Homo sapiens: one gene and its partners. The protein of the gene in region 2 purifies or fractionates together with the protein of the main gene of each other region. This does not show direct contact. Each region holds a gene or a part of one and is shown on either strand. Other genes may lie near its edges. The genes, in order: NVL, RBM34, CCDC137, PRKRA, ZNF777, RRP8 and SDAD1.

Evidence for each region.
Region 1: the proteins of RBM34 (region 2) and NVL purify together in Homo sapiens (affinity purification with mass spectrometry; 2 studies listed by BioGRID and IntAct, with this or other methods). This does not show direct contact.
Region 3: the proteins of RBM34 (region 2) and CCDC137 purify together in Homo sapiens (co-immunoprecipitation; 3 studies listed by BioGRID and IntAct, with this or other methods). This does not show direct contact.
Region 4: the proteins of RBM34 (region 2) and PRKRA purify together in Homo sapiens (affinity purification with mass spectrometry; 3 studies listed by BioGRID and IntAct, with this or other methods). This does not show direct contact.
Region 5: the proteins of RBM34 (region 2) and ZNF777 purify together in Homo sapiens (affinity purification with mass spectrometry; 2 studies listed by BioGRID and IntAct, with this or other methods). This does not show direct contact.
Region 6: the proteins of RBM34 (region 2) and RRP8 purify together in Homo sapiens (co-immunoprecipitation; 3 studies listed by BioGRID and IntAct, with this or other methods). This does not show direct contact.
Region 7: the proteins of RBM34 (region 2) and SDAD1 purify together in Homo sapiens (affinity purification with mass spectrometry; 2 studies listed by BioGRID and IntAct, with this or other methods). This does not show direct contact.

Annotation. Positions count from the first base shown.
Region 1 is NC_000001.11:224,232,673-224,236,172, forward strand, and holds part of NVL (nuclear valosin-containing protein-like), read right to left. Parts: intron 618-3,500; coding exon 529-617; intron 301-528; coding exon of another isoform or gene 269-300; exon of another isoform or gene 1-268. UniProt on the Homo sapiens protein: Participates in the assembly of the telomerase holoenzyme and effecting of telomerase activity via its interaction with TERT. Involved in both early and late stages of the pre-rRNA processing pathways.
Region 2 is NC_000001.11:235,154,751-235,158,250, reverse strand, and holds part of RBM34 (RNA-binding protein 34), read left to right. Parts: exon of another isoform or gene 1-1,585; coding exon of another isoform or gene 1,586-1,656; intron 1,657-3,138; coding exon 3,139-3,370; intron 3,371-3,500.
Region 3 is NC_000017.11:81,672,068-81,674,399, forward strand, and holds the end of CCDC137 (coiled-coil domain-containing protein 137), read left to right. Parts: intron 1-8; coding exon 9-88; intron 89-427; coding exon 428-637; 3' UTR 638-1,832; downstream 1,833-2,332.
Region 4 is NC_000002.12:178,434,176-178,437,675, reverse strand, and holds part of PRKRA (interferon-inducible double-stranded RNA-dependent protein kinase activator A), read left to right. Parts: intron 1-1,356; coding exon 1,357-1,531; intron 1,532-3,500. UniProt on the Homo sapiens protein: Activates EIF2AK2/PKR in the absence of double-stranded RNA (dsRNA), leading to phosphorylation of EIF2S1/EFI2-alpha and inhibition of translation and induction of apoptosis.
Region 5 is NC_000007.14:149,451,063-149,454,562, reverse strand, and holds part of ZNF777 (zinc finger protein 777), read left to right. Parts: intron 1-325; coding exon 326-452; intron 453-3,450; coding exon 3,451-3,500. UniProt on the Homo sapiens protein: May be involved in transcriptional repression. Inhibits cell proliferation through CDKN1A/p21 induction by down-regulation of NIBAN1/FAM129A at low cell density.
Region 6 is NC_000011.10:6,600,817-6,605,058, reverse strand, and holds the start of RRP8 (ribosomal RNA-processing protein 8), read left to right. Parts: upstream 1-1,442; 5' UTR 1,443-1,556; coding exon 1,557-1,655; intron 1,656-2,843; coding exon 2,844-3,207; intron 3,208-3,456; coding exon 3,457-3,910; intron 3,911-4,003; coding exon 4,004-4,133; intron 4,134-4,242. Other genes in the region: scaffold protein ILK, read right to left, coding at 699-787.
Region 7 is NC_000004.12:75,952,946-75,956,445, reverse strand, and holds part of SDAD1 (protein SDA1 homolog), read left to right. Parts: intron 1-309; coding exon 310-471; intron 472-3,500.

The DNA of each region.
Region 1 (3,500 bases), about 11 Mb from region 2:
CCCCATATGCACTCAAATAATAACATTAAAGACACTGTCAAATGTGAAGGATGGTGCAAAGCTTTTGAGATGGCCCCAAAGCATCACATAACACAATACACAGATTTTATATTTTGAAAGGAAAGTCTCAACATATGGAAAGTTATTCCAAATTTCACTTCTCTTGTGTATTTTCTAAGCTCTCCAATTTAGGCTGCATTTTAACAGGCAAGTAGATATCACCTTAGCAAAAGAATACGTTTTTCCAGAATTGATAAGCAGCCCAGACTCATGATGAAGACAGCGAATGGATCCATTTGCCTATAGGGACAGTACTCTTTATTAGAGAGGTACTAAATAACTTTGCTATTATTATAATTGTCAGCAACAGAGGTTACCTAATATTTCAGAACAGCTTCTAACAGTCTTATTAGAAAAACGTTAGCTTTAATATCATAGATAATAGACACTAGAAAATGGTCATTTTCCAGGGCAACAGTGGTTTTAAGTATCATAATTAGAATTGAGAGATTCTGGAGAGAATTGTACCTTTTTCATTTCCACTCTTCTGTCTTGCCATTTCCTGTCTCAGGGCACAGATAGAAGCTTCTCGTACCAAAGCAGAGAGATCTGCGCCCCTACAATAAAATAATAGTTATCTACTTATTCTTAGATACTGCAAAATCCCAGAAAAAAACCCGGAAAACAGTTTTCATATAAGTCATATATTAAATAATCAGGAGAAAAAGTGACCAATAAAGATGAGAAATAAATTGATTATCAATCAATAGAAAAGAGCTCTTAGCTTTTATATAAGATATTTCTAGGCCAGGTGCAGTGGCTCACGCCTATAATCCCAGCACTTTGGGAGGCCGAGGTGGGTGGATCACTTGAACAGGAGTTTGAGACTAGTCTCAGCAATATGGAGAAATGCCATATCTACAAAACTACAAAAAAATTAGCTGGGCATGGTGGCATGCACCTGTAGTCCCAGGCACTGGGGAGGCTTAGGTGGGAGGATCACTTGAGCCCGGGAGGTGGCGGTTGCAATGAGCCAAGATCGCACCACTGCACTCCAGCCTGGGTAACAGAGTGAGACTCTGTCCCAATTAAAAAACAAAAACAAAAAAAAACTAAACTCAAGAAGAAAGGAAATTATGGAGGAAACAATACAATGCATAAAGGGCTAAAGTGCTGACTAGCATATTCATGTATTACATAATGTCTAAAGTAAGCTTATTAAAAAGTCATTTATGGGCTGGGCGCAGTGGGTCATGCCTGTAATTCCAGCACTTTGGGAGGCTGAGATGGCAGAATTGCTTGAGCCTGGGGGGCAAAGGCTATAGTGAGCCTGGGTGACAGAGTGAGACCCTGTCTCAAGAAAACCCCCCAAAAAGTCACTTGTGGCTCCAAGTTCAGAAGGGAAAAATACAAACCCTGGAAAGTCTTTAATGCACCTGATTCAAGTTAAAACTGAATGAACACATCATAAGTTACTTAAAATATGACAAATACAAAACAGGCCTTCACTTATTTAATTAGTTCATGTAATAATATGCTGAGTCAGCACAGTTCTGAGTTCAATGAAAGACACTCATGTTGACTGGAGTTTCACTACATTACAGCTGTAACAGGGTTCTTAGAGATTATATGAGAAAGAGTTTGAGTTTGGGGATAAAAACATCACTTCTATGATTCACAAGTCTTGGAAAGAAAAGATGAAAATGAAAAATAAATTTTTTTAAAAAACCTCATCTCTGGACATTAAACTTATTATATAATGTTGATAATCCCCATACTATATAACTTTTTTTTTTTTGAGATGGAGTCTTGCTCTGTCACCGAGGCTGGAGTGCAGTGGTGTGATCTTGGCTCACCGCAACCTCTGCGTCCTGGGTATGAGTGATTCTCCTGCCTCAGACACATACTATATAAAAGTAAAGACCCACAGAGCTTAAATTTTTAACTGAATCTGGTGTTTTGTTGGCTAAATGTTAGGGTTATAACATTATTTAATAATCACATACCTGCTGGGGTATTCATTCCTTCCCATACTATGAAATCTAACATTGGTGGAAACACCATTAACTAACACAAGCAGATAGCTATAGACTGTAGTGGTGTAGTGTCTCTCAAACTGTAATTATAGTGGCATGAAAATCCAAAATGTACACCATTCAACTTTAGCCCTAACCCCTTCACAGACTGATAGCCTACTTGGTATATCCAAAAGATTTAGCCCAGGGCAAGTTCCGCCACCAAAATCACCTGTTACTCACCGAAAATCTTTTCAGATTTGAGCACTTAAAGCTGTATTATTATTATTTTTTTTGTAGAGATGGGGTCTTACTATGTTGCCCAAGCTGGTCTTGAACTCCTGGCCTCAAACAATCTGCCTGCCTTGGCCTCCCAAAGGGCTAGGATTACAGGTGTGAGCCACTGCTCCCACCCTTAAAGCAGTAAACTACTCAAGTAGTAGTCTCCTAAGCATAAGGCCATTTCTTTATTTTTAATTTTATTTATTTTTATTTTTTGAGATGGAGTGTCGCTCTGTTGCCCAGCCTGGAGTGCAGTGACACGATCTCAGCTCACTGCAACCTCCACCCGCTGGGTTCAAGCAATTTTCCTGTCTCAGCCTCCCTAGTAGCTGCGATTACAGGTGTGCACTACCATGCCCGGCTAATTTTTGTAGTTTTAGTAGAGACAAGGTTTCACCATGTTGGCCAGGTTGGTCTCAAATTTCTGACCTCAAGTGATCTGCCCACCTCAGCCTCCAAAGTGCTGGGATTACAGGCGTGAGCCACTGTGCCTGGCCACATCATTTAAATAAAGACTCGTATGGATTTGATTCCTAATTAGGGGGTGAGGCACATCCTATTTAAGGGGAGGTAGAGGCATTTACATCTGCCCCTCACCACCCCTGCCTGAGACTCTGATCAGTTTCTCTTCACTGAGAATCACTGCTACATTGGAAGGACATAATAGAGAAAAAAAAAGGGCCGGGTGTGGTGGCTCACTGTAATCCCAGCACTTTGGGATGCTGAGGCATGAGGGACTACTTAAGCTCAGGAGTTCATGACAAGACTGGGCAATATGGCGAGACCCTAAAACTACAAAAATTTTTTAAAAAAATTAGCTGGGGATGGTAGCATGCACCTGTAGTCCCAGCTATCCAGGAGGCTGAGGTCAGAGGATTGCTTGAGCCCAGGAAGTCAAGGCTACAGTGAGCCATGATCATGCCACTGTACTCCAGCCTGGGTGAAAGAGGGAAACCCTGTATGGAAAAAAAAAAAAGAAAAAAAAGAAAACAAAAAGCCGGAGGGGGCATTGTCTCTGTTAGTTAAACTTGAGTTTCATTTCCTCCCTCTGTGTCCCCAAATTGGGAAAGTTAACAAACAAATTTACTTCAAAACATATGAAGAAAAACTAATAACTGTAACAACACAAACATAGGAAGGATGAAGGCAGAAATGTCAGATTTCCTGATGTTACTACAGGCTATGTGGAGGTGAAAATGCATC
Region 2 (3,500 bases):
TAGAGATGGGGTTTCACCATGTTGGCCAGGCTGGCCTTGAACTCCTGACCTCAGGTGATCCACCCGCCTTGGCCTCCCAAAGTGCTGGGATTACAGGCGTGAGCCACCGCGCCTGGCCCTTATCCCTCTTTCTGCTAATATAGACGTGCTCACGATTCTAATCTTTAAAAAGGACATTCCCCCTAACCGCCAAAAAAAAAAACCCATGTAATTGCATGTCTCTGTTTGCTACCATTCCCACAGTCCTTCCCTTCAGTCTAGCTTTTAAGAAAAGTAGTCTGTTCTTGTACTCTCTCCCTTCTCTTGATCTGTTCACCCTTCCACGCACTTGGATTCTGGTGGTGGTGGGTTTTATTCTCCGTCCTGACTGTGCCACTGAAGCAGTGCCCACTGAGGCCACCCTGACCTCTCATATGTAATGGGCAGTGCAGCTTTTGTCTTATGAGTCCTCTGTTACCTTTCACGTGGCTGCTTTTCTTGTTGAAGCTACCGGATTCTCTGAGAGAAATCTCTTCTGATTGTCCTCTTGCCAATTCTTTCTTAGTGTTACTGTGGTATCTTTTCCTCTGACTACTCTTTAAATGTGCATTTCCCTCAGGGGTCTCATTCTTGGTCATGTTCTTGTGACCCTTTGTCACCCTTTGTTGGGGGCAGTATCTCTTGTGCCCACCGTGATCTCTCTCCTGATCTCCAGACATGTATGTTTGTTTGCCTCCTGGCATTTGCACCTCTTTATTCCATATGTACCACCAGGTAAGAATGCTCCACTGGGAGCTCATCATTCTCATCAGTCCTGTTCCTTGGCATGAGCGCTACCACTAGCCTTCTAGTTGCCTAAGTTAGTGGCCCGAGAGTCATCCTGTCTTCTTTCCTCTCCTTGCTTAGCTAATCAGTTGCCGAGTCCTGATGATGCTGTTTTTTAATTATCTCTTTAATCTGCCTTTTCGTCTTCACCTCCTTCCCTGCTCTGGTCAGTCTGGTCAGTCTTCTCAGATACACACTGTTGTAACCATCTCCTTACTGGTCTCCCTTCTCCAACCTTATCCTCTTTCTAATTATCTTCCACTCTTCTGCCCAGATGATCTTTTTTAGATGCTCTCAAAGTCTTCAGTGTCTCCTCATCTTCAGTAGGATAAAATCTAAGCACTTTCGTGTAACACTGAAGGTCTCTCCTGACCTGGTTCCCACCTTACTGTACTGTCTCGTTTCCTTTCACACCTGCTAGGTACTTTATATACTGTAGTGAGCAAAACACTAGACATGGACCCTGTCCTCAGGGGAGGAGTAATAGCAGTCAGCTTTTATTGGACTATGTGCCAGACACTGATTTCCTCCTCTGAGAAGCCTTTCTCGTTTATGTTTGCATACCATGTATTATAGCTGTTACCATTTTATTGTGAACTTGGTCTGTCTCTTCACTGCACTGTTGGAGGCCTTTGATTGTTTCTTTATCTTTGTATCCTCAGAGCCTAGAACTGAGTAGGAACCCGGTAAGTATTTGCTGATGAGTGAGTCATTTTTATGATTCTTATTAGCTCTTCTCTTCCCTCACTCCTTAATATCCTTTAGTTCTCCTTTCAGATTGATGCTCAGACCTTGCTTATCCATATCCAGCAATACTTTATATTGTATTTACCGTTTCACAATTTACTTTTGGTAAGAGTCCTTTAAATATTACAGAAGTATTAGAAGTAGGGAATCTGGTTTTTCCTATCAGCCATATTGCTTGTACAGAGTAAGTACTCTGCTGCCATATTAACCTTTTTAGACTCTCAGGGAGTGTGATAGTGCCCCTAAAGGTCTAGAGTAGAAAATGAAATCAGGCATTGATAGAGTGTAAACTAAATCTCCAAGAGCTTTAAGTGAATCAGCTTTTGTATAGATGAACTTGCTGCTGCTGTTGCATGGCAGATTTAACGTGTTCAAAAATTGAGCTTCACTTATTCTTGCCAGGTGCAGTGGTTCACGCCTGTAACCCTAGCACTTTGGGAGGCTGAGGTGGGCGAATGGCTTGAGCTTAGGAGTTCAAGACCAGCCTGGGCAACATAGCAAAACCCTGTCTCTACAAAAAAATATAAAAGGAGACTGGGCGCGGTGGCTCATGCCTGTAATCACAACACTTTGGGAGGCTGAGGCGGGCGGAGCAAGAGGTCAGGAGTTCGAGACCAGCCTGGCCAACACAGTGAAACCTCGTCTCTGCTAAAAAAAAAAAATTAGCTGGGCTTGGTGGCAGGTGCCTGTAATCCCAGCTACTTGGGAGGCTGAGGCAAAAGAATCGTTGTGAACCAGAGAGGCGGAGGTTGCAGTGAGCCGAGATTGCGCCACTATACTCCAGTCTGGGAGACAGAGCTAGACTCTGTCTCAAAAAAAAAAAGTATATATGTATATATATATATATATATATATATATATATATATATATATATATGTATATGTATGTATAAAAGACTGGACATGGTGGCTCACACCTTTAGTCCCAGCACTTTGGGAGGCCAAGGTGGGCAGATAACTTGAGGTCAGGAGTTCAAGACTAGCCTGGCCAACATGGTGAAACCCCGTCTTTACTAAAAATACAAAAATTAGCCTGGCATGATGGCAGCCACCTGTAATCCCAGCTACTTGGGAGGCTGTGGCAGGAAAATCGCTTGAACCCGAGAGGCAGAAGTTGCAGTGAGCCGAAATTGCACTATTGCACTCCAGCCTGGGTGACAGAGCAAAACTCCGTCTCAAAAAAAAAAAAAAAAAGCCACGTGTGGGGGCATGCGCCTGTGGTCCCAGTTACTTGGGAGGCTGAGGTGGGAGGATTGCCTGAGCCTGGGAGGTTGAGGCTGCAGTGAGCTGTGATTACGCTGCTACACTCCAGCCTGGGTGACAGAGCAAGACCCTGTCTCAAAGAAAAAAAAAAAGAGCTTAACTTTTTCTAAATCTTGAGTTAAATCATTTTTTTTCTAAAGATACTAGTCAGTTTCTAGATAGCGCTGCTCTAAAAATTTTGATATATTTGTGAGTAGTAAATCTAGGAAAATTCAGAAGACATTGGGAAATATTTCTAGTCGGGAGGGTAGGGCTGTGCTTTGTCAAATACTAGACCTAACTGGCATGACTCTTACTGCTTATTTTATTTTTTGCCTTAAAAAGGGAAAGCGCTCTAGCGAGTGCTGATTTAGAAGAAGAAATTCACCAGAAACAAGGGCAGAAAAGGAAAAATTCTCAACCTGGTGTTAAAGTAGCAGATAGAAAAATACTTGATGACACAGAAGACACAGTTGTCAGTCAAAGAAAGAAAATTCAAATCAACCAAGAAGAAGAGAGATTAAAGAATGAGAGAACTGTGTTTGTTGGGAATTTGCCTGTTACATGTAATAAGAAGGTGAGTTTGTATATGGTAAAAGTTCAGAGAAGTTAATAACTTTGTTCTTCCTGTGTTGAATAAGCATTCAATAGTAAGTCATGGATATAACTTCATTGTAAATTATTACATAAATCATCCTAATATGAAT
Region 3 (2,332 bases), on a different chromosome or scaffold from region 2:
TCCTCCAGACACGGTGAAGTTTGGTGAGGTTGTCCTGCAGCCCCCAGAGCTGACTGCCAGGCCCCAGAGGAGCGTAAGCAAGGACCAGGTAAGTGGGGCACGGGGACAACTTGAGTTTGTCCCCCAGTGCTGCCAGGGAACAGAAGCCTTGGACAGGCTGGACACGGTGGGTCACACCTGTAATCCCAGCACATTGGGAGGCCAAGGCAGGCGGATTGCTTGAGCCCAGGAGTTGATACCAGCCTGGACAACATAGCGAGATCCTGTGTCAAGAAAAAAAAAAACCCTCAGCCAACGTGTGCGCTGTCTGGTGTGTGGCCTGAGAGTGCAGTGTTCTCGCTGGCGGGAGAGCTGTTGAAGCTGTGAGGCTTTCTGTTGCATCCCCTCCTTTCCCAGCCTGTGCCTCACCCTCCCCTCTCTCCCTCAGCCTGGCAGGAGATCGCAGATGCTGCGGATGCTTCTGAGCCCCGGTGGTGTGTCCCAGCCTCTGACCGCCTCCCTGGCCCGCCAGCGGATTGTGGAGGAGGAGAGAGAGCGGGCCGTGCAGGCCTACAGAGCGTTGAAGCAGCGGCAGCAGCAGCTGCACGGGGAGCGACCCCACCTCACTTCCCGGAAGAAGCCAGAGCCGCAGCTGTGATGGAGAGACACCCGGGGCCTGGCCACGCTCTGGGGCAACTGGCACCAGGAGCTGCTACACCTGGGTAGGAGAGAGGCAGGCCATGCCAGCAGTGTGGGGTGAGGCCTCCAGCTACTTGTTCACACGTTGGGCACTAGTGGGTCCACATCTTGCAGGGGGTGAGTGCCCGATGGACTAGGGCCAAGGCCTGGTTGACAGACGGCCCGTGGGGCCCGGTGTCACTCACAGCTCCATCTCTTTGTTTTGAACGTCCATTCTGAGTCTCAGCCCAGGTGGACCTTAGGAAGGGCTGGATCCCTGTCCCTGAACACCAAATACCGAGACAGCTGATGAGGCTGGCTCAGTGTGTGACGGAGGCCCCCGGGAGTCAGCAGAGCCGAGCGTACAGTGCACATCAGGCAGAGCAGGCCACGGGCAGGGACGACGCATCGGGACAGGGCTCTGCAGGGGACCGTGACTACAGGCCAGCTGTGAGTGGTCCCCTACAGAGGCTGCCCACCCAAGGTTTGGTTGGGGTGAAACATGATGACAACACATACACTTAAGAAGGTGGGAACCGGGGGCCGGGCGCGGTGGCTCACACCTGTAATGCCAGCACTTTGGGCAGCTGAGGCGAGTGGATCACCTGAGGTCAGGAGTTCGAACCAGCCTGGCCAACATGGTGAAACTGCATCTCTACTAAAAATACACGAAGAAAAAAAAAACAGTGGGAACAGAGTTGTCACCTACCTAACAGGGCTCTGAGAGAGCCGGGAGGCCCAAAGTGGCTGGAAGAAGGTAAAGGAAAAATCCTGTCTTGGGCTCAAGGTCACAGAGTGGGGCCCAGGGGGAGTTCCTGCTGAGGGCAGGGCCTTGCCAGGCTTCAGTCTCCAGTGCCAAAGGAGGAAATGCCCAGGCTGTCAGCATTTCCAGATGAGAGCAGAAGGGAGAAGCTTAAACCCAAGTCACACATCCAGCAATGGAGTCCGACAGCCCAGCACCATCTGGGAACTGAGAAGCACCTCTGCCCGGCCCCCACACCGTGTGGAAAGTGAGGAGCACCTCTGCCTGGCCGCCACCCCGTCTGGCAAGTGAGGAGCGCCTCTGCCCGGCCGCTGTGCAACCTTCCAAGTGTGAAGTGACAGCCTTGTGTGTGATGTTTTCTGCCTTCCCCAAGTTTGCACTTTCGACATTAAAGTTTACTTTTTAGTTAAAAGTTTTAAATTGGAGAATATATATTTAAAGTCAGGGCTGTTTTCCTCTTATGGGCATGTTTCCCACCTTGTGATGGACCTGGCGGCCCCAGCCCTCGCGTTGGGATGTTGTTTTTGCAGCAGCCAGAACTCAGCCCCAGATCACAAGCAGCAGCTGGAAGGGGGTGGCCTTTCCCTGGGAAAGGGCTGGGACGGCAGCGGGTGGCACTCCCACTCGCTCAATGCCTTTGGTTTTGGGTGTCAGATCGGCCCGTGTATGGCTAAGCAAAGGGATCCCACAGGGCTGGGAAAGCGCTCATGCTCTCCACTGCATCCATGATTCTCAGGTTTTAGCTGCTGGAAGGGAAACCCCTGGTGGTTTTTAGGGCCTCTTTGTTGCCCAGGCTGGGGTGCAGTGGCATAAGCACACTGCAGCAAGTTGTTGGGCTCAGGCAATCCTCCCACCTCAGCCTCCCAAGTACTTGGGACAACAGGTGCTCACCAACACACCCAAATAATTTTT
Region 4 (3,500 bases), on a different chromosome or scaffold from region 2:
GGTAGGAGTATAAATTGGTTCAGAAATCAGTTTGGAAGTATTTATCAAAATTAAAAGTGTACATGTTCTTTGACTTAGCAGTTCCACTTCTAGAAATAATTCTACAGAGAAACTCATTCAAGTGCAAAAGAGTGTTTATTGCTAGTAAAAGCAAGAAACTAGAAACAACCTAAAGCTCACAGTTGGAGATCCGTAAGGTAAATACAGTGCATATATGTGCACTGATAAAAGAAAAATGAACAAGATGTAGAGGAGTAAGTTATCATTTGCTTTAAAAGATTGTGTGTGCTTGCATATGCATAGAACATTTATGGGAAGATACTGAAAAATGTTTAACAGTATGTCTAAGAAATAGAACAGAGGTCTTCAGGGAATGGGTGGTAAGGAAAAGAGACTGTACTCTTCATTATATATTTGTTCTTAGTGCATGTATATTTTTAACCATGTAAATAGTGTTCTTTATTTAAAAACAGTATTTTAAAGTTTCTATAATGTAAATTTTTATTTGGTAAATCTAATAAATTACTTAATTCCATATCATGCCATCTCTAAAATCTTTTGGAAATTGCCTCCCCTCTGTCGTGCTCATTAATAAAACAATATTAAGAGTAGTAACCCTACTTACTTCAGAAAGTAGTTGTTTTTATTAATGGCATATGAAAGCAATTTGAGAACCATAAACTAATATGGAAATATAAGGCATTCTAAGGACAGAGATGAAAAGGGAAGGATATAGGGGAGGATAAAGGAAAGAGGAAAAGCAGAAAGAAAAAGGAAAAAAATACTCAGTTGGGTTCTGGGATAGAAGTCTGATAAGAACTTTTTGACATCCTGTCATTTATTTGAATGACTTGTTCCTCAAACCCAACGCGCACATTTCATGTTTTTTTTAGTTTTTTTTTCTGTTTTTTTTCCTGTTTGATAGCTGTCAGTTATAGTGATTGGTATTTAATACAAAAAAAACCAAAGATATGAAAATTGTTCTATATTTTAATCTGCAAATTGCTCCATTAGGCAGATTTAATTATTTGTGGATTTACTTATGGTGCTTCCAGATATCTTGTACCTCTTAATGTGACCATCAGAAAACTTGACTGAGAAACATTTGTACTATACAAAATACAAAATGCTTTCAGTATATTATTGCAAGTGCTTCTTAAAAACATATAGTATTGTTAAATGTGTACTTTTTAATGTTGTCTTGTTTAAATTGGAAAATTAACCAAATGTTATCCATTTAAACATGCTTTATAACATATTAAATGTGAGTGCTTAATAAGTACTTTTAATGATACTGGTACGGGTGTTGGAACCCAGTCCTAGTCAAGAGTCTAAATCTTCATCTCTGTTTTTCAGACAAATGTAGTAGGACATTCTTTAGGATGTACTTGGCATTCCTTGAGGAATTCTCCTGGTGAAAAGATCAACTTACTGAAAAGAAGCCTCCTTAGTATTCCAAATACAGATTACATCCAGCTGCTTAGTGAAATTGCCAAGGAACAAGGTTTTAATATAACATATTTGGATATAGGTATGATTTTTTTTTCTTTGGCTTTCCCAAGACATGTTTATTTAAAAATGTGTTTGAGGAACAAAAATGTGTTTGAGGAATAAAAATTTCTATTACAATTTATTTTATTGATCAGGGATTCTAAGTATATATAATTACTAGGCCAGTAATATATATAATTGATATGTCCCATTCTTGTGGATAGTAATAATAGCTAACATCTATACAGTTATAACAAAAACAACAATAGCAAAGATAGAGTTTTACTGTGTGCCAGACACTGTTCTAAGATTACACGTATCTACTTACTGAATCCTCAGACTAACTCTATGAAGCAAATTCTGTTATCCTTATTTATAAGTAAAGGAAGAAAGGCACAGAAAGGTTGAGAAACTTGCCCAAGATCACATAGCTAGTCAGCGGTAGAGCAAGATTTGGGGAAGAGTCCCAGAAGATACCCTGGCTGTTAAACTAGCCCTGCTGGGCAAATGAAAAGGCACCTACATTTCTAGCACAAGTACAAGTTTGTGGTGCCCAGACCTTTTCTCTCTACTTTGTCACTGTATGCTGATTCTGGGAGGTAAATGGAACCAAGTCAATTTATAGTTTTATCCCATCTCAGCCATCATCATCTGTATTTTCTCTAGCCCTTAATCATTTGGATAGACAAATATGGACAGATGGGAAAGCAAGTCAGTATGGATTTTCTTTTAATTCAATTTATAGAGCTAATTAGTTGTGTGTGTTTGGTGTCTTGATTTTTTTTTTTTTTTTTTTTTTTTGAGACGGAGTATTGTTTCTGTTGCCCAGGCTGGAGTACAGTGGCACAATCTCAACTCACTGCAACCTCTGCCTCCTGGGTTCAAGCGATCCTCCTGCTTCAGTCTCCCAAGAAGCTGGGAATACAGGCATCCACCACCAAGCCTGGCTAATTTTTTTTTTTTTCCCCAAGATGGAGTCTTGATCTGTTGCCCTGGTTGGAGTGCGGTGGCATGATCTCAGCTCACTGTAACCTCTGCCTCCCAGGTTCAAGCAATTCTCCTGCCTCAGCCTCCTGAGTAGCTGGGACTACTGCTGTGTGCCACCACACCCACCTAATTTTTGCATTTTTAGTAGAGACGGGGTTTCACCATGTTGGCCAGGCTGGTCTCAAACTCCTGACCTCATGATCCACCCACCTCGGCCTCCCAAAGTTTTTTTTTTTTTAGTAGAGATGGGAGTTTCACCATGTTGACCAGGCTTGTCTCAAACTCCTGACCTCAAGTGATCTGTACACCTCAGCCTCCCAAAGTGCTGGGATTACAGGTGTGAGCCACCGTGCCTGGCCAAAGTATCTTGATTTAACATGTGTGAGAAATTTTATATCCCTATCCAACCACAGAAAGATGTGGGGACCTTGCTTGTCAGGGTCCCCTGACCCTGGGAAAGTAGGGCACTTAGGGGCTCAAAGAACTCCTGATATTCTGTGCTACTTTGGGATTGAAGGACGGGTGAAGTGCATTGTCTCAGTAAACCAATAATGATGCAGAACCTGGGAAGTCAGTGCAGACAGATGGTTAGAAAAGGTGGCTGATGAAAAATTAGCTGGGTGTGGTGGCACATGCCTGTAGTCCAGTCTACTAGGGAGGCTGAGGTGGGGACAATGACTTGAGCCTCTGAGGTTGAGGCAGCAGTGAGCCATGATCATGCCGCTGCTCTCCAGCCTGGGTGACAGAGTTAGACTTGTCTCAAAAAAAAAAAAGAAAAGAGGCTGGAGGCCAGGTGCGGTGGCTCACACCTGTAATCCCAGCACTTTGGGAGGCCAAGTCGGGCAGATCACCTGAGGTCAGGCGTTTGAGACCAGCCTGACCAACACGGTGAAACCCTGTCTCTACTAAAAATACAAAAATTAGCCAGACAAGGTGGCGTGCACCTGTAATCCCAGCTACTCGGGAGGCTCAGGTGGGAGAATCACTTGAACCCGGGAGGCAGAGGTTGCAGTGAACCGAGA
Region 5 (3,500 bases), on a different chromosome or scaffold from region 2:
ACTGTGCACATGGATCTCCCCGGGATCTTACTGAATGCAGAAGCTATTTAGTAGGTCTAAGGTGGGGTCTGAGCAAGTTACCTGGTAGCACCATTGCTGCTGGTCCACAGACCATGCTTTAGAGCTGCAAGAATTATATCCTGAAGGGGAGGAAAAGGATCCGACAAGACAGGCCCCTCACTCTTTGGGGCCAGGACAGTGGCCAGACTTCTAGAAAAGTCCTAGGTGAAGGCCCAGAGCCAGGAGTTTGGGCCTTGGGATTGGCCAGCCGTGGGCCTGTCACTGCCTTCCAGCGGGTCTGAGCCGAGTTATTGTGTGGTTTCAGGTCCCTGTCACATTTGATGATGTTGCTGTGCACTTCTCGGAGCAGGAGTGGGGAAACCTGTCTGAGTGGCAGAAGGAGCTCTACAAGAACGTGATGAGGGGCAACTACGAGTCCCTGGTTTCCATGGGTAAGGAGAAGCCTTCGCTCGCTGGGGGCTGCCTGGACGCCAGCTCAAAGTGCATTCATAAACTTAGGGAGTTCTGAACCCCAGCAGAGCCAATAGTTGCAAGCAAGGAGAACAGAGTTGTAGAGATCACAACAAATTAAAGCAAACGCCCTCATATACCCACACACATCAGTGCGGCCCAGGCCAGAATGGCTTGTAAATTGAGACCCCACTCTCAGAGAAGCTGCTGGGGCAAGGAGGAGGAGAAAGACCTAGACATCAGTGGTCTCTCCGTCATCATATTTTTCCCCATGGGGACCCCTTTTTAAATAAATTAGTTTGTCCAGCAAACTATTATTAAGGAAGGAAAAAAGAATGAAAGGAAAGTGTGCTGAGTGTCTCCTGTGTACCAGCCACATTTGAGGTGCTGTACAAGTATCATCTCCTTGGACCTGCACAGCCAAGATGTTGCGGAGGCTAAGACAGGTGTTCACACTCCTGTTCGATGATTCAGGTGCCTGAACACTGAGGCTGTGATCAGGGAGGTTAAATGCTTATTTCATGGAGATCTGCCTTACCCCGAAGTCTGTAGATTCTTGTGATTTTAATTAAGAATATTTAACGATGAAAACCTGGAAAAATATACTTTACTTACATATATATATGTGTGTGTGTATATATATCTGTTTCTCTGATATGGAGAACTTTTTGGGTATATACAAAAAAACGTTATCTTAAACATTTAAATGTGTTGTCACATAGAAACTTTGATTCCAGCTAGAATTGATAATTTTATACATACCTTTCCATAGGATACATTCCCTTCCTTTTAAAATTCTTTTTTCTTTTTTTAATTGTGTTTTTTAATTGTGAAAATTCAACAATTTAAATGATTTATATAATTAAGAGCAACCACCACCCATTCACCAGTACCACTCCCCAGAGGTAACCACCATGAACACTTTGGCCTGTGTTCTCTCTCATCTTTTTTTGCATGTGCAGATATAAGCATGATACATGCACTGAGGCACATGCAGTTTGGGGTTTGCACAGAGGGGCCCGTTTACTTATTTTACCTAATGTAGGGGGATAGAGAGTGTTCCATGTCAGCACACGTAGGACTCCTTGGAAAGACAGTGCAGTGTTCCACGTGAACCATTAGGGCTTTTGACCTGTCTGCTGTTGCTGAAGAGTAGGTTGACTGTTACAAAGTGTTATGATAAACATTTCTGTGTATTTGTGCACTTCTGTGTGTTACAGTAGGACAGATACTAAGAAGTGGGATTGCCAAGTAAACAGGATGCACATTTATAGTTTTATGGCTACTGCCTGGTGCCCTCCAGAAGGCTGAGCCAGTTGATATTTCTGCAAGGGTGTGTGAAAATGCCACTTCATACCCTGGCCTGAGCTGATGTTCTTCTATTTTAAATATTAGCCTTTTTTATAGGTGAAAAATGATACCTTATTTATTTATTTATTTACTTTTTTTTTTTTTTTTTGAGACAGAGTCTCGCTCTGTTGCCCAGGCTGGAGTGCAGTGGCACGATCTGGGCTCACTGCAAGCTCCGCCTCCCAGGTTCATGCCATTCTCCTACCTCAGCCTCCCGAGTAGCTGGGACTACAGGCACCTTCCACTGCTCCTGGCTAATTTTTTTTTGTATTTTTAGTAGAGACAGGGTTTTACCGTGTCAGCCAGGATGGTCTTGATTTCCTGACCTTGTGATCCAGCCACCTCGGCCTCCCAAAGTGCTGGGATTACAGGCGTGAGCCACACGCCCAGCCTACTTCATTTATTTAAATATGTATTCTTTGATGATTAGTGAACTTGTGCATCTTTTTTTGTTTGTTTGTTTGTTTGTTTGTTTTTGAGACGGAGTCTCGCTCTGTTGCCCAGGCTAGAGTGCAGTGGCGCGATCTCGGCTCACTGCACGCTCCGCCTCCCGGGTTCACACTATTCTCCTGCCTCAGCCTCCCGAGTAGCTGGGACTACAGGTGCCCACCACCGTGCCCAGCTAATTTTTTGTATTTTTAGTAGAGACGGGGTTTCACCATGTTAGCCAGGATGGTCTCGATCTCCTGACCTTGTGATCCGCCCGCCTCGGCCTCCCAAAGTGCTGGGATTACAGGCGTGAGCCACTGTGCCCAGTGAACTTGTGCATCTTTTTATATATTTATTGGCCATTCATATTTCTTCTATGAATTACCTATTTATAGCTTTGCAATTTTACTAGTTATAGAAGTTCTTTATGTATAACTATGGATATTAACCCTTTGCCATATGTCAAACATGTATATATATGTATAATATTTCCTCCAAGTTTCTTCATCTTTTAACTTTATTTCCAAAGAACTGCAGACTTATTTTATGTAAGAAAATCTATCGATATTTTATGGCTTTTAGATTTTTATCAGGATTAGTTTTTTGTTTTTTTCTTTTTTTGAGACGGAGTTTCACTCTTGTTGCCCAGGCTGGAGTGCAGTGTGTGATCTTGGCTCACTGCAACCTCTGCCTCCCAGGTTCAAGTGATTCTCCTGCCTCAGCCTCCCGAGTAGCTGGGATTACAGGCATCCGCCACCACGCCTGGCTAATTTTTTGCATTTTTAGTAGAGATGGGGTTTCACCATGTTGACCAGGCTGGTCCCGAACTCCTGACCTCAGGTGATGCGTCTGCCTCAGCCTCCCAATGTGCTGGGATTACAGGTGTGAGCCACTGCACCCGGCCAGGATTAGTTTTTTACCTTACAAAATTTCAAATATCTTCTGCCTTTATCATGAAAACCTGGGCAGGTTTTGACTACCTCTGAGCAACACGATCCCTCTACCCCCCGCCACACACACACACCCACACCCCCACACCCACAGTGGGCTCTTGGGAAAAGAAGGGGAGACTTGGCGGTTTTCCATTGTGGTCTCCAGTCGAGGAGCTGCTCCTGGAATCACGTGCCCACAGATGATACCTTAACAACATCCAGTGCAACCTCATCCCAGAGCATATTTTTTTCCCTTTCTTCTGCCTAGACTATGCAATTTCCAAACCAGACCTCATGTCACAGATGGAGCGCGGGGAG
Region 6 (4,242 bases), on a different chromosome or scaffold from region 2:
TTCCCAAGCCAGAACCCTGGTCCTCATCTTTGCCCTTACTCACTCCCCACACCAAGTTCCACAATTCTTCGTCCTAAAGACTTCTGGAATTTGATCACTTCTCTTTTTCACTCACCCTAATTCTAGTCCAAGACATCATTACTTCTACGATGAACTAGGCAATTGCCTCCTTTCCACCTGCTCTTCACAAAGCATCCAAGACGATACTGAAAAATGGACAATCTCATTATGTCACTATACAGCTTTAAAACCTTGCTTTTAAAATAAAGACCTTCTTATAGCCTAAATATGCTTGCATGATCTGGCTGATCCTTGGAGACCTCTACAGTCTTATGTCCTGTTCTTTTCCTCTTGTACCCAATGCTCCGACCCACAGAGATCATCTATCCTCCAGCCATATGGAACTCCAGACAATTTCCTGTTCTCTCTGCTCTGTGCCTTGCCCCCTAGCCTTTGGCCATGCAGTCTACTGAGGCTGGAAAGCTCTCTGTAGCCTCTGCCTGTGAAACTCTTATTCTGCAGTCAAGATTCAGCTCAAACTGCGTCCTCTGTGAAAACCCTCTGCCCCCCACAGGCTATGCTTAGCACTCATTACACTGGCTAGCAAAGGCAGCCGCCACCACCAGACATGAGCACTCCACTCCACGTAGCCAGGAGATCTCTAGCCTTCCTCTCATCCACCAACCGTTTCAGCTCACCCCTGGTTGAGGTCGTTCTCCGTGTTGTCCAGCCACAGGCGAACGGCGACTGCGTTGCCCTCCCGGCACTGAGTGAAAATGTCGTCCATAGCAGCGTCCCGGCGCCGAGTCCCCTGGATTGGGGAAGCCTGAGGACTGTGGAGTGATCCAGGGAAGGAGGATGAACCCCAAGCTTTATCCTCTACAGGAGAGAAGTGTTTGTGTTGGGGGTAGGGGGCCTGAGCTGCGTCCCCGGCTAGTGGGGGTCTGTGAAGGAGTTCGGGGCTGCGGGATGATCCCTGGCTGTGTCCTCTAGACGCGAGGTAAAGGCGGGTCAGGGTGGGCAGGGGGTGACGAAGAGGTAGTGTCTGCTGAACGGATGTCCGAGAGCAGGCAACTAGACCCTATCCGCGAACAGAGTTGGGGGAAGTGGGGAGGTTCAGGCTCCGTATACTCTGGGAGAGGGGACCGGGGGTCCTCCCCAGGGTTGGCTCCGTTCCTTACTTGGGACTCAGGAGAAGTGAGGGGTGACAGGGGGCGCGGGTCCTCTCGCACTCACCGGGACTCGGGCTGCAGGATCCTTCTCCGGGGAACTCCCGTCCGGCCGCGCCCGCAGCCCGCCGCCGGCCCCGCCCCGCCCGTGGCGCTCTTGGGCAGCGCGGGCCTCCGTCCCTCCCCTCCCACCGCCTCCCTGCCCTTCTAGCCGCGCCTGGCTAAACTCGATGGTTCGCTGCGCCGCGCCGGCCGCTCTAGCAACCCCTGGCTGTCACGCTTTGGTTTCCGGGTCGGTTCTGGCAGGTCTGAGCGCTCCGACTTCCAGAGGAGCGCTGTGCACGTGGAGAAGAGCGGGGACTCGGCGACCCTGCCCTCCCGACCCTCATGTTCGAAGAGCCTGAGTGGGCCGAGGCGGCCCCAGTAGCCGCGGGCCTTGGGCCCGTAATCTCACGACCTCCGCCTGCGGCCTCCTCGCAAAACAAGGTGAGTGACTCGCGGGAGCAATGGGAGCTGTTTCAGGCCGCGAAGCGGACATTGGTGGATCCCAGCGCTGTGTGTATTGCGGGGAGGGACACCTGTGGCACCGTTAAGGGCGAGTCCTGATCTGAAGATCCGAGAACTTCCAAAAGAAACTGACGTTGGGTCAGAGAGAGTTGTTGAGTAGAAGTTGGTGAAGCGAAGAGGGTTCTTCAGACAGGAAAAAGTACGTACAAGGGCCCTGGGACAAGAGAGCATGTTCTGTCAGAGTCACAAACACAAGTGGTCCTTGTGGTTGAAATACATAGTAAATGAAAGGGGCATATATGCTGTTCAAGTTCAAGAGGTAGAAGTTTTGCGTATATTGAGAATAGAAGCCAATGAAAGGTTTTAAGCAATGGAATTATTTCTTCAGATTTGTATTTTGAAAGGGTCGTCGGTTACAGTGTGGAGGATGGATTGGAGACAGTAAGAGTTGTCAGTATCATTGTTCAAAGGAGGGTGTGGGAAACTTAGAATCAGGGTAAGTGCCTGGCCTAGGATTACCTGGTAGGACTGCAACACAGAATCAGCCTTCCCGACAATACATCTTCTCCTTTGAGCCTCTGCAGATGTGAGGGCCCTGCTTCCTCAGGCTTTTCTTACCCTTCAGTCTGCCTCCAACATGGAATCGGCCTGCTTTGTTTCCTCCTTTTTCATCCCCTAGCCCCATTACCATTGTCCAAGCCGCTGGCCTCTCTGTCTGCAATTTCTCCCCTTCAGTTTGTTTTCTACACTGCAGCTAGAGACATGTTAAATATTTAATATACGTGTGTGATCATGTGTCTCCTGTGTTCAGAAGCCTCCTTACCTCTTACAGAAATGTATCAGCTCTAGGCAAAAGCTCAAGGTGAAGGGTTGGAATTCCTGGTCTCTGGCCTTGGTCTTGTTGCTTGTGGCCTTTGCATTTTCCTTTGGGGAAACCTCCATTAGCTCATTTACACATTGAAGAAAGTGGGATAGGTGGTTTCTCTGCTCTCCAGCTTCCCAGAAGTTGGGGTGGTGACATAAAAGTTCTTCTGGGTTCTGGCAGGCTTGACTGGGAAGAATTCAGATGCTTCTGCCAGTCTGAATCAGGTCCACATCTCTCCCTTCTTGTTCTCCAGGCCTCATCCATTCTCTTTAGGCCCACTGTCATCCCCTGTTTTCCTCCAGGGCTCCAAGCGCCGCCAGCTCTTGGCCACATTACGGGCCCTAGAGGCAGCATCTCTTTCCCAGCATCCCCCCAGCCTATGTATAAGTGACTCTGAGGAGGAGGAGGAGGAAAGGAAGAAGAAATGCCCCAAAAAGGCATCATTTGCCAGTGCCTCTGCTGAAGTAGGGAAGAAAGGGAAGAAGAAATGTCAAAAACAGGGCCCACCTTGCAGTGACTCTGAGGAAGAAGTAGAAAGGAAGAAGAAATGCCACAAACAGGCTCTTGTTGGCAGTGACTCTGCTGAAGATGAGAAAAGAAAGAGGAAATGCCAGAAACATGCCCCTATAAATTCAGCCCAGCACCTGGACAATGTTGACCAAACAGGTACCATTGGATGTGTATATGTGTGTGTGTTGGTGTGTGTGTGTCGGGGGGTCAGCTGGTTCTACATACAAGAGTGATTATCCACTGCCATTAGGATTGGGGCTAATGGTGTACTCAGGCAATAAGAAGTACTTCTCTGCAGGCCACAGTCACGATCTCAAAGACAGAGGTATGGCTGGGATGACTTGCCGTGACTCCGAATGTAAGAGATCTTGCCTCATGTGCACCTTCCCATCTCCCTCCCTGTAGGTCCCAAAGCCTGGAAGGGTAGTACTACAAATGATCCACCAAAGCAAAGCCCTGGGTCCACTTCCCCTAAACCCCCTCATACATTAAGCCGCAAGCAGTGGCGGAACCGGCAAAAGAACAAGAGAAGATGTAAGAACAAGTTTCAGCCACCTCAGGTGCCAGACCAGGCCCCAGCTGAGGCCCCCACAGAGAAGACAGAGGTGTCTCCTGTTCCCAGGACAGACAGCCATGAGGCTCGGGCAGGGGCTTTGCGAGCCCGCATGGCACAGCGGCTGGATGGGGCCCGATTTCGCTACCTCAATGAACAGTTGTACTCAGGGCCCAGCAGTGCTGCACAGCGTCTCTTCCAGGAAGACCCTGAGGCTTTTCTTCTCTACCACCGCGGCTTCCAGAGCCAAGTGAAGAAGTGGCCACTGCAGCCAGTGGACCGCATCGCCAGGGATCTTCGCCAGCGGTGAATGGGGGTCAGGGACTGTGAGAAGCCATGTGGTGGGTCAGTCATAGGCTCAGATCAGACCAATATGTGACCCTTGCCTTCCACTCTCAGGCCTGCATCCCTAGTGGTGGCTGACTTCGGCTGTGGGGATTGCCGCTTGGCTTCAAGTATCCGGAACCCTGTGCATTGCTTTGACTTGGCTTCTCTGGACCCTAGGGTCACTGTGTGTGACATGGCCCAGGTAAACCCCTATGTTATCTGGCTTGTGCTCTAGGGCCAACCTCCGTATGCTAATCTCTAACCCTTCCTTCCCCTTTCCCATCCTGGTATCTCAGTGCTGGCTTTCTTCT
Region 7 (3,500 bases), on a different chromosome or scaffold from region 2:
TTACCATGAATGCCTTCATCCTGCAAAAAAAAAAAAAACAAAAAAAAAACAGTCTACCTGTCTCCCTTTCTAGGAAGTTCCCCTGACCTCACCAGGCTAAATTATGACTTTTCTTCCACCGAGCTCCCCTTGCTCTGTTATAATACTGTATGGCCATTTCTTGGTCCCAAGGAGCAAAGACTGTGTCCTGTCCATTCTGTGCCCTTGGCACCTAGTAGAGCTTCTGACACAGAGGAGACATTAATGTTGATTAGATGACTCCTAAAGTATGTTGTTGAAGAAGAAATATCAAACTTTTTGTTCTGGTAGGCTGGAAAGACAGACCGAAAAGAATTTGTGAGGAAGAAAACCAAAACAAATCCATTTTCCAGTTCGACAAATAAAGAGAAGAAAAAACAGAAGAACTTTATGATGATGCGGTATAGCCAGAATGTCCGGTCAAAAAATAAGCGTTCCTTCCGAGAAAAACAGGTGAGTTCCACTTGAAGCTTGGGTGGCAAGAACAGCACTGTAATTCCAAGACAGCTTTACATTTGAGACGGACTTGCGCCTTCTGAAGACTGGGCATTATTGTGTGTGTCTTGGGAGCATTGTTGGAGAGCATTGTTGGAGAGTTCCCATTAATGGGAGCATTGCTGGAGAGCATGGAGAGGTGAGAAGGATTCAGGGTATGTAAATCCCAGACCTGACTTGATTGAGACTCAGCTGTGGGACCAGAGGGGAATCCATTTTCCTCCAGTATAAGTAAAGGAATGCAAGCTAGATCATCCATGAGGTTCCTTCCCATGCTAAAATTCTCTGACATTTGATCTGTGAAATATAATATCAAAATTAATTGAATAACTTTTTAGTGCCAATTTTATGCCTGGTTTTCTGAGACAGGGTCTCACTCTGCTATCCAGGCTGGAGTGCAGTGGTGCAGTCACAACTCACTGCAGCCTCATGGCTCACTGCAGCCTCGACCTCCCAGGCTCCAGTGATTATTGCGGGATCTGGCCAGCAGCCCGCAATGCAACGGGGCTCTTTCTTTGTTCCCAAGTGGAAAGGCAGGTGGAGAAATAAAAGACACACACAAGATAGTGAAAGTTGGGTCCAGGGGGGTCACCGCCTTCTGGTCCTGCGATGCTGCCAATGCACTGGATATACCACCATTTATTATTAAGTTTAGTGAGAGTGGGCGTAGGTTAGTGAGGGATTTAGGGTCGTTTGATTATGAGGTGAGATGGTCACATGGGGATGAAGTAATTCTTTAACATAACATTGGTATGCAGAAGTACAGTATACAGAGATAAGAATTTACAATATAGTGTGTGCATCAGCAATTTCTAACAGAGCCTTAAAACAGAAACACAGTCTATCCATAACCTACGTTTAGCAAGATATTAATCAGCAGTAACAGTTGCAGCAAAAACTGGTTGTAAACAATCAATAGAAACAGGACGTGAAGCTAGACAACTGGTTAGACCACAAATTCTCAGAAGGTAGTATGCCTTACTCTTGAAGAGACCTACAAGAGCCGTGGCAAGATAAGGGCGTTTATAACCCTATCTTATCCATATGGACAGGCGCCCCTCATGCATCCATTTATAGGCTCTCCACAAGGGTCACATTCCATTCCCAGAGCTATGAACATCTGCTTTTCTGGGATAGGAATCTTGGTGATGTGAAACCTCCCTGACTGCACGTCCGTTCATAGGCTCTCTGCAGGGGGAAGCACATCATGTGCTGTTGGCTCATTCTGGCAGCCCAACCTGGCATTGTTTTTACACAATCTTGCATGCAATTTTGTATTTACAATAATGAGGAGCATTTCATCTTTTATTCTGTAGCAATAGATTCAGGGGGTCTCCCTACAAGTGATCCTCCCACCTCAGCCCTCCAAGTAGCTGGGACTACAGGCGTCTGCCACCACACCCGGCTAATTTTTGTATTTTTTGTAGAGATGGGGTTTTGCCATGTTGCCCAGTCTGGTTTCAAACTGCTGGACTCAAGCAGTCTGTCCACCTCAGCCTCCCATAGCGCTAGGATTATAGGTGTGGGTACTTTTCTCTTTTTTTTTTTTTTGAGACAGAGTCTCGCTCTGTCACCCAGGCTGGAGTGCAGTGGCGCAATCTCAGCTCACTGCAAGCTCTGCCTCCCGGGTTCACGGCATTCTCCTGCCTCCACCTCCCAAGTAGCTGGGACTACAGGTGCCCGCCACCACGCCTGGCTAATTTTTTTGTATTTTTAGTAGAGACGGAGTTTCACCGTGTTAGCCAGGATGGTCTTGATCTCCTGACCTCGTGATCTGCCTGCCTCGGTCTCCCAAAGTGCTGGGATTACAGGCGTGAGCTACTACCGCGCCTGGCCCCAGGCGTGGGTACTTTTCAAAACCCAATAATTTTGTGTGGTGATATCTCAGAAACAGTTTCAGAAAAGCAATGCAAAATAAATAGTGTGTTGGCATGATCCTTCCTGTATGTGCCCTTTTGAAAGCCCTGATGTTTACAGGCTTTGGGATTACATTTTATCCATTCATGGCCTTTGAATGGTAATCCCATGCTACTTAGGCAGCTCATTTATTTCAGTTATTCATTGTGATAAAACAAGTTTATGCTTTTGTATCTTTCTCTCCTTGTGGTGTAGCAGTGTATCTAAATATCATTCTGAAGAATTGCCAGGATATCAGCTCTGGGTTAAACAGTCTCATATTGTGAATCAGTGTTCCTAAATAGCTAGCCAAGGATCAGCCTGCCAGCACTGAATGTAACGGCCAGCCCTCTAGGGCAGTGCTGTGTCTGTGGGTTCCAAGTCAGTATTCACTGAATTAAGGTACCATTTAGCTCTCCCTGTTGACTCTTTCTAGTTCTAAACTGTGTTCAACAACATCATTTAAATAATGACGGCATTTTTAATAGAAGCTGTTGAAACTGAGGTGAAAGGAAAGGTGCCACTTAGGATTTTAAGTACTCTAAATTTTGCCACATTCTCCTAAAATTATAATAGGATTGACTTAAATCCATTAGTCTGTCCTTCACTGGCCCTTAACTAACATTTCAGGGTTGAGGAAGTATTAATTACCCTGTTGGTAGGCCTTGTTTCATTATAAGGTTTCTGTGAGCTTGTTATATTTTAGTTAGGGCTCCCCCCACCCCTACTTCCTTTGTTTTTTAGCATGCCTTTTCTGGCATGAAGGGAAAGCCCAGCTTTGTTCCTTTCAAGCACCTCGAGTCATAAAATAACTCTCAAAGATTGAAGAATCTTTTTGAGAGTAAATTAAGATTTCATTGGACATATGCACTTGTTGGTTCAAGAATGTTTTTTCTTGTTCTCCAATTTTCTTGTCATTTGGAACCTGATATTAATCAGAATTTCTATGTGTGTCCCTTTGCCCTGTATTTTCTTCAAGATCTCTTCATTATAAACATAAACTTTTAAGTTCCTGATTTTCTCTGTTCTCCCCTTTAGACCAGTACTGTTCAATAGAAATATAATATGAACCACATATATCACTTAAAAAT